Linked DNA regions of Homo sapiens: region 1 is linked to region 2. Evidence: fine-mapped expression QTL. A gene starts in region 2. The other region holds a variant in brackets. All regions are shown on one strand. Distances are from middle to middle. Region 1 has its middle 11 kb from the start of FLYWCH2. Region 2 holds the start of ZG16B (zymogen granule protein 16B).

What was found. PIP is the estimated chance that this variant, and not a neighbour inherited with it, causes the effect. A credible set is the group of variants that fine-mapping cannot tell apart.
Region 1: its variant is the best candidate, but not a certain one, in a credible set for the expression of ZG16B in monocytes after LPS (Fairfax 2014, PIP 0.53).

Annotation. Positions count from the first base shown.
Region 1 is chr16:2,870,107-2,874,495 of GRCh38, reverse strand. No RefSeq gene overlaps it. Among named protein-coding and RNA genes, the nearest start is that of FLYWCH2, 11 kb to the left of the region's middle. The variant T/A (reference allele first, on the strand shown) is at 2,065.
Region 2 is chr16:2,828,129-2,832,517 of GRCh38, reverse strand. ZG16B (zymogen granule protein 16B) reads right to left here and starts at 2,215. Exons shown (of 4, transcript NM_145252.3): 1 at 2,190-2,215; 2 at 2,025-2,103; 3 at 1,722-1,824; 4 at 242-722. The coding sequence starts at 2,076. The coding sequence ends at 359.

The sequences.
Region 1 (4,389 bases), 42 kb before region 2:
GCACCCACGCGGTGGGCAGGGGTCCTGTTGATCCCTTCAACTTGGTGGTTTCATGGCAATTTGACTGCTTTGGACTGTCCACAAGTGACAGGGATTTAGCCACACGGATTTTTGAATTATTTATGATAGTGAAACAAATATGAAGTGATACAGATGTCCATTTAATCATTTAAATGATTAACAATTAAATGAAACGTGGTCTATCCCTGCAATGGAAATACAATACATGCTACGACGGGCATGAACCTTGAAACATGATGCCAAGTGAGAGAAGCCACACACGAGAGGCTACATGAGTTCATTTATGTGAAATGTCTGGAACGGGCAAATTCAGAGACAGAAGGTGGACTACTGGTTGGTTGCCAGGGGCTTGGGGGAGTGACTGCTACTAGGGCACTAGTTTTCTTTTTGGGGGTGATGAAACATTTTTGGAATTAATGATTATCAATGCACAACTTTGTGAACAGACCAAAAGCCACGGAATTGTACACTTTAAAATGGTCAATTTTCTGGCCGGGCTCAGTGGCCCATGCCTGTAATCCCAGCACTTTGAAAGGCTTGAGGTAGGAGGATCACTTGAGATCAGGAGTTTGAGACTATCCTGGGCAACATAGGGAGACCTCATCTCTACTAAAAACAGAGTGGGTGTGGTGGTGTGCGCCTGTGGTCCCAGCTACTCAGGAGACTGAGGCAGGAGGATCGCTTGAGCCAGAGAGGTCGAGGCTGCAGTGAGCTGAGATCGCACCATTGCACTCCAGCCTGGGTAACAGAATGAGACCCTATCTCAAAATAAAATAAAATGGTCAATTTTATGGCATGTGAATTAAATCTCAATTTAAAAAGAAGAAAGGAATGGTCAAGAAAGTGGCAGATCTATTAAAATTGCCCCTCAAAAATGGTTTGAACATCAGTAATTTCACTTTTTCCACATAATTTATCTTAAATACCAGAAAGTAAAACTAAAATGTCTTTTTTTTTTTTTTTTTAGATGGAGTCTCACTCTGTCGCCTAGACTGGAGTGCAGTGGTGTGACCTCAGCTCACTGTAACCTCCACCTCCTGGGGTTCAAGTGATTCTCCTGCCTCAGCCTCTGGAGTAGCTGGGATTACGGTCATGTGCCACCACGCCTGGCTAATTTTTGTATTTTTAGTAGAGACAGGGTTTCACCATGACCTCAGGTGATCCACCCGCCTTGGCCTCCCAAAGTGCTGGGATTACAAGTATGAGCCACAGTGCCTGGCCTTAAAATATCTTTTGCTTCTTGACTTTAGACGTGTATTTTCTGCATATTTTCATAACCTTTTTACACTAAAATTACTACTTGTTTATACTGCATGTCAATTGTTAAGCTAATTGTTACATTGTTGAAAACATTCACTGATATATTTTATATTGATACTTTCCTCATTCTGGGGTTCCATTGTCTTTTTTCAATCAGATGTTTTAAGTGTTGAAAAAAATCCTGGCCTTTATGGGTGAGGAAGGAATGTTTATTTCAGTAGATGTCAGCTCAGAATCAAATTACCAATGCGCAAAGCCTAGGCACACACATTCCTAAAGTATTTGGTTTCAATCGTGGGATAAATATAGCTTGAACCTAACCTTCCTTCCCCTTCCCCTTCCCTCCCCTTCTTTCCTTCCTTCTTTTTTTTTTTTTGAGAAGAAGACCTAAGAATCATGAGTTTGTATGCACCTAACATCATAACCTCAAAGATATAAAGAAAAAATGGGCACATTACAAATAAAAATTGACAAAGTAACCCCTATAATCATAGTGGGAGATGTAACAACTCTATAACAATTTTTTTGTTTGTTTGTTTTGTTTTTTAGACAGACTCTCGCCCTGTTGCCCAGGCTGGAGTGCAGTGGTGCGATCTCGGCTCACTGCAAGCTCCACCTCCTGGGTTCACCCCGTTCTCCTGCCTCAGCCTCCTGAGTAGTTGGGACTACAGGCGCCCGCCACCACGCCCGGCTAATTTTTTGTATTTTTAGTAGAGACGGGGTTTCACCATGTTAGCCAGGATGGTCTCCATCTCCTGACCTTGTGATCCGCCCACCTCAGCC[T/A]CCCAAAGTGCTGGGATTACAGGCATGAGCCACCGCGCCCAGCGAACAAATTTTAATACTTTTTTATTATTTATAAAATAATATGAGCCACTGCACCTGGCCCCAGCTTGGTTTTGATGAGAATTGGCCTGGAATATCTTTTCAGAATTCCCTTCCATGTTATGATGACTGGCCTTAAGAGAAGTTTGTGCAAGATCAGAAGGTTTAAGTGAAGCATCAGCCATGCAGCTCTGGGGTCAGCGTGGGGAGTGGGGATGAGTCCCCATCGTAGCTCACTGTGCTGCCCGCTTTGGGCAGTAGCCAGGCCCTCGGCTCCCTCAGCTCCCACCATGTCTCCTCCATTGGCTGCTCAGAGTCTGAGCCAGGCGTGTGCAGAGTTGAGGTAGCAGGCAGCAGCTTATTCTGTTTGATATTGAGGCTGTAGGCAGTGAGAGACAGATGTGGCTCCATCTTCTCACACTCCCTGCTTCACACATAATTTTTTCCTATTAGCGCTCCTTGCTACAACCAGCTTCAGCCAACGTAGGTGCAGAAGTCAACTGGAGGCAGCTCCCTGGGCTTGCTCCCATAGTCACGGAAAATCCAATCCCTATACTTACTTTATTAATTTAATTTTATTTATTTTGGAGACAGGGCCTCACTCCATTATCCAGGCTGGATTTCAGTGTTGCCATCACGGCTCACTGCAGCCTCTATCTCCGAGGCTCAACTGATCCTCCTGCCTCCGCCTCCCAAATTGCTGGGATTACAGGCGTGAGCCACTGAGCCTGGCCTAATTCTTTTTTTTTTTTTTGAAACAGTGTCTTGCTCTGTCACCCAGGCTGGAGTGCAGTGGCACAATCACTGCAACCTCTACCTCCTGGGTTCAAGCGATTCTCCTGCCTCTGTCTCCCGAGTAGCTGGGATTACAGGCATGTGCCACCATGCCAGCTAATTTCTGTATTTTTAGTAGCGACGGGGTTTCACTATGTTGGCCAGGCTGATCTTGAACTCCTGATCTCAAGGGATCCACCCACCTCAGCCTCCCAAAGTGCTGTGATTACAGGCGTGAGCCACTGTGCCCTGCTGTAATTATGTTACATCGCTCCTTGAGGGTTCTGCTTCCTCGATCACACAAATGAATTTTACCCTAACAGATATATACAGATATATCTTACGTTGATGTCATTTTAAATCACTGGGGAATGAAAAGATGATTGATTCAATAAACATTGCTGAAAAAATTACTTAACATATTTGGAAAATAGTATATCTTTATATTGTTCATAAAAATGTTTTTAAAACCTCAAACTATAAACATATTGGGAAAAGTAGAATATGCTTGCAACCCTGGAATACAGAAACAAAATGCAAACATCATAAGGATCGAAACGTAAATATATCAAAATTATAAGTTATTTAGAGGCGGTTTTTCAGGTTTGACCTACAGATTGTTAAAATAAAAATTATTGGTAGCCAGACTCAGTGGTATGAGCCTGTGTTCCCAGCTACTCGGGAGGCTGAGGCAAGAGGATGGCTTGATCCCTGGAGTTCAAGGGTGTGGTGCACTATGGTCACGTCTGTGAATAACCACTGCACTTCAGCATGGATAATATAATGATACCCTGCCTCAAAAAAAACCTGAGGGATTCACTGTGAGTCAAGGCATCCAGCTATATGCTAAAGTTGAGCAAATTTTACAAAATGCTGAGAGAGAAAAGAGATAAAAGGATAGACAGACAGACATGCTTGAATGGAGCTTTGGGGATAAAGGACATTGTGGGCCAGATATACAGCCACCAACCTTCGGCCACGCTGCGGAATCAGGATTCATTCTTGGCTAGATTGCAGAGACAGGGCAGGAGACACAGCTGAAGAGCTGGTTCGCTGGAGACAAGAGAGCTCAAGCCTGGAGAACAGTAAAGAACCTCCCCTGCCAGGCGCAGTGGCTGACACCTGTAATCCCAGCACTTTGGGAGGCCGAGGAGGGCGGATCACGAGGTCAGGAGATCGAGACCATCCTGGCTAACACAGTGAAACCCTGTCTCTACTAAAAATACAAAAAATTAGCTGGGCGTGGTAGCATGTGCCTGTAGTCCCAACTACTCAGGAGGCTGAGGTAAGAGAAGTGCTTGAACCCAGGAGGCTGAGATCGCACCACTGCACTCCAGCCTGGGTGACAGAGCGAGACCCCGTCTCAAAAATGCTCAGTCTGCAGTGAGAAACTCTAACCCTCTCCAGCTTCATCTCCCATCAGTCTCCTGCGGTTTTTCCTTTCCAGGCTTTGCCTAGGCAGTTTTCACATGCTGTCATCTCCTGTCTTCCCTTTTTTGACAGCGTCCCTCT
Region 2 (4,389 bases):
GTGAGGGACAGTGGGGAGTGGCGGCCTTGAAGCCTGACTCTTCAAAGATTGTGGGACTGGCACAGAGATCCACAGCACCTCTGAGGGGGTGGTGCTGCTCTCTTTCTGTCCTCGGCAGAGTCACCTTTGCCCTACCCCTCATCTCAGTTCACTGGGCTGCAGCACTGGGGACTTTGTCTCCAAGGAGCAGGGAAGGCTTTGGTTGTACCCCAGATCCAAGGACCAATCCTGGATGCACTGATTCTGCAGAACCTTTATTTATTGGTGGATTCAGATTCAGCGTCCCGACTCAGTTACTCCAGTACCATCAGCCACCACCACCCAGATGGCCTCAGCTCGGATGGCCCCATACCCCACCCTAGCGACCCACGGGTGAGTTTGCTGAGTATGTGAGATTAACTGGTGGCTCAGTGGTCGGCTCCTCTAGTGGATAATTCCATTCAAAGCCAATGCTCTTGATGCCAAGGAGTTGATACTGGCCATAGATGCCCACCAGCACCTGCCCCTCTTGGCTGGGGTAGGCAGAGGAGATCTGGCCATCAAGCTTCCCAAAATAGAAATAGCGGTCCTTGCTGGTGTACATGACCATACCCCGGAGGAAAGCTTGGAAGGCGACAAAGACTTTTGTGATGTATTCGCCTGGCTGCAGGGTGACTTCCTGGGTATTCCCACCTAAGGCTCCCAGTTTCACGTCCCAGGAGTCTCCAAGTTTCACCTGGACACTGGGAGAGAGGCAAAGCTTTGGACGTCCAGATCTGGGATGGCCCAGCACATCCCGGGTCCTCAGCGCCCCCATCCTCCTTCCCGGGATGCAGAGAGTCCAGCACCATCAGACTTTGGGTCCCTGACACAGACTCACTGGTCACCAACCCTGATTCTACCACTTTTGGGCCCTGTGATCTTGAGCTCGTTACCCAGCCTCTCCGGACTCAGTTTCCCCGTCTGCAAAGTGGGTGTGACTTTTGGGAGGAGTCACTGAGATCCTGGTGAGGAGAGCTGCGTGCAGCGCCAGGTCTCCGTGACCCAGAAGGCACCAGCTGCCGTCACTGTGGCCCACATATGAGCTGCCTCTGGCCGAGCCTGGACCTCCCGAGCCTTAGTCACTCCAAGCAGAGCAGCTCACAGGCCGAGGGGCAGGTGACTTCCCACACTCGCCAGCGCTTCCCTGACGGGGCTCATCTTCACCCCTCCCTCACCCTGGTGCTCTCCCAGGATGCACCCCTCCGGCTCGCCCCGCCCACACTCTGTCTCCTCTGCTATTGGGCTTCTCTCCCCTCTCCCAGGACCCCAGAACTTCTAAATGCAGGGCAAAAATCCATCCCAGACCTCCAGCAGAGACACTTCGATATTAAGGAAATGGCCCTGGACTTCTGCCTCTAACACTTCTGCGACTCATATTCAGTCAGTGGTCCACTCTGACCCTTACCTCCTGTCTTCTTTGACAGTAATCGGACAGACTTTCCCCTGACTTTCCTATCAGGCATGGGGACAGAGGGGCCATTTTTGGTTGAGTTGAGCTTGGGTTGAAGGGAGAAGGTAGGGAGGACGGTCTGACCGTCTCCGCTCCAGCCAGGAAGCATCAGCGGGAGCCAGGAAGCATCGACAGTAGCCAGGCATGTGTGGCAAAAGTGGCCACGGGTGCTTACCCCCTGCCCTGAGTTCCTGAAACTGTGGGATGGGAGGGGACATGGCGCTGGGCCCATGACCATAGCCCTACTCACCTTTTCACCAGGAGAAGACCTACAGACACCCGCAGCCCTGTGATTTCATGGTCGTAGTCTTCAGTGGTGCTGAAATACTTGCCTCCTCCAGGGCCATACATCTCTGAAGAAAAGAGAGACCCAAAGGGAAGAAAATCCCCATGCGGTGATATGGGGGTGACCTCTGCCAGAACAGGGGACCCCACCCCTCCAGGCAGACAGGATGGTTCTGTGACCAGAGTTAGTCTGGGACAAGGGCCGGGTGAGTCCCTGGCTCTCCTGGAGGGAGGCAGGGGAGATTGAGGGCAGACCCCACTGACTTACTCCCTGCCCAGGTGGGGCCCCCCAGGAGGGCAAGCGTGAGCAGCAGCAGCATGGCCTCTGGCCGGTGCATCCCAGGGCTCTGTGGGAAGAAGAGAGGCCTCCTGACTCCAAAGCAAGGGCCAGTGTGACCTTGCCGGGCCCCACCCATGGAGCCAAGCACCTTACCTCGCCTGTGACTGGGCGTCTGGTTGTGCCGGGCACCCTCCACATCGCCTTTATACTCTCCTGGGCCCCCTGGGCCCCCATCCAGAAGGAAGAAGCGAGGGGCCGCCAGGGGAACAGGAAGGAGCTGGCCGTGGGGCTCTTCCTGGGGGAAGGCCCAGGGCCGGCCTTGGGGAGGCTCCCGGATGTGCAGTATTTGCTGTCTTGGCTCTGCAGCCTACATAAACGAAGCTGAGAACAGTGACAGGCATTTCACAGTTATCTCTGGGATCTCTCCAGTCAGCACTGGCACCGACTTGAATGGCAGAGGTGGGGAGAGGCTGGCTTATCCAGCGCAGCCTGATGGCTTCCACCTGAGGGTGGCGGGTCAAGGGTCCACAGAAGCTCCGTGGGGCCCACTCCTGCCGTGGGCGACCTGGAGTCAGGGCCTCCTTCGGACTCAGGCAGCACCTGGTGCCTGGCAGCCTTCCTGGGACCCAGGCCGAGCTCGACGCGGGCCCTGAGAGAGCCTGAATGGATCACCCAGCCCTTTGTGTCCTGTGCCCTGTGCGGCAGGTGCACCAGGCACTGGCCCTCAAGGCACTGCCCTTAGAGGCTGCCCGGGTCTCTCCTCTGTGCTGTATCTGGGTGGAGCAGGTATGAGCCAGTGTTCAGGGACTCAGAGGCCATGGGAGGGAAGGACACCAAAGGTGCAGTCCATGCCACGATGGGAGGCAGAGGGCCTGGGGAGGGCGACCCCCCAGGCCGGTCCTTCCGAGGTGTCGGCCCTCATCTGGGCGGGAACTGGCGCTTCTCCAGGGCTCGGTCCCCGGGGCCCTGCTGGTTTTCTGTCTCACTCCTTTCCCCCTCAGCCCCTCTTGTCAGGGAGGCCTGTGCAGGCGGATGCCTGTGGGCAGAACGCCATCACCCTCAGACGCCAGCTGAGAAAAGCTCGTGTTCGGAGATGTCTCATCCCAAGGACCCTGAAGGACCCAGGGCACTGGGAAGGAACTGGAGTCTGCAGAAGAGTTGGGGTGTCGGATAAGGATCAGGGGAGAAGAGATAAAGGCCGTCAGATGCCCAAGCGAGGCGGGAACTAGGGGACAGATTGCAGCTCAAGCGCAGTTCCATGCGTGTCCTCAGGACACCTCTTGTGTGTGTTCCAGGGACTGAAGCTCCTCAGGGCCTGTGACCGCTGGGAACAGCCACAGGGCTGTGATCACCAACACAGGACCCTGGAGCCAGACGTGGGTCCAGCCGGGCTTCCTGACGTAGCGGGGCTGGGATCTGCGGGCTCTTGCTTCACCTCTCTGGGCCTCTGTTCTGCGGATAACAACAGAACCTCCCCCTGAGGGTGCTGTGAGGGCCTCCCTGGAGGGGAGGCCCCCAGGGCTGGTTGCCCTGAGCCTTAGACTTTATGCCTTGGGGGAGAGTGTACAACGCTAATTTTTGGAAAGAGCAAAAGCTGAGAAATCACGGGCGCATCCACCTGGAGATGCCGAGAGCCCGGGTGGTGGATCCCTGGCTGTGGAAAACTTGGGTGGAGAGGGTGGGGGACACTCCCACTGCACACCCATCCCCCAGGGAAACAGGCTGGAAGACCAGTGTGTGTGGACCCCACATGCTTCCCAGGAAGATGGGTGCAAAGAAGGGCTTTGTGCATGCACAGACTGGCTCTGGAAGTGCTGGCTCACCAGGAACGGGGACGCCGGTCTCATCGGGATGAGGGTGGGCAGGGGCTGCGGGAGGAGCAGGACTTTCACGACTTGAACCAGGTGCCTGCGCCAGGGGTGGCGAACTATGGCCCAGCCAACCACCTCCTGTTTCTGCCTCGCCCATGAGCAAAGAATGCTTCCTACATGTTAATATTCTTAGGAAACATTCAAAAGAACGATGTCTTGTGGTCCATGAAAATTCTTTGAAATTCCCATGCTCCAGTTCATTAAGTCAAGCGTCACTGGCCCACAGCCGCCGTGCGCTCATTGGCATGTGGCCTGTGGCTGTCTTCATGCTTGCACAGAAGCTCACATGGCTGTGACAGAGACCTGCAGCCCCTGAACCTAAAATTGTACCATCTGGCCCTTCACACAAAACGTCCGCCCACCCCTGGTTGATACCTATTCCCAAAGAACCACCAAAGCCCTGTCCGTGGTGCTGGATGGCAGAGTCAGGAAGGGGGCTCCCCGTGACACCCCAGCCCTGACGGGGCAGGAGCAGAGCAGCA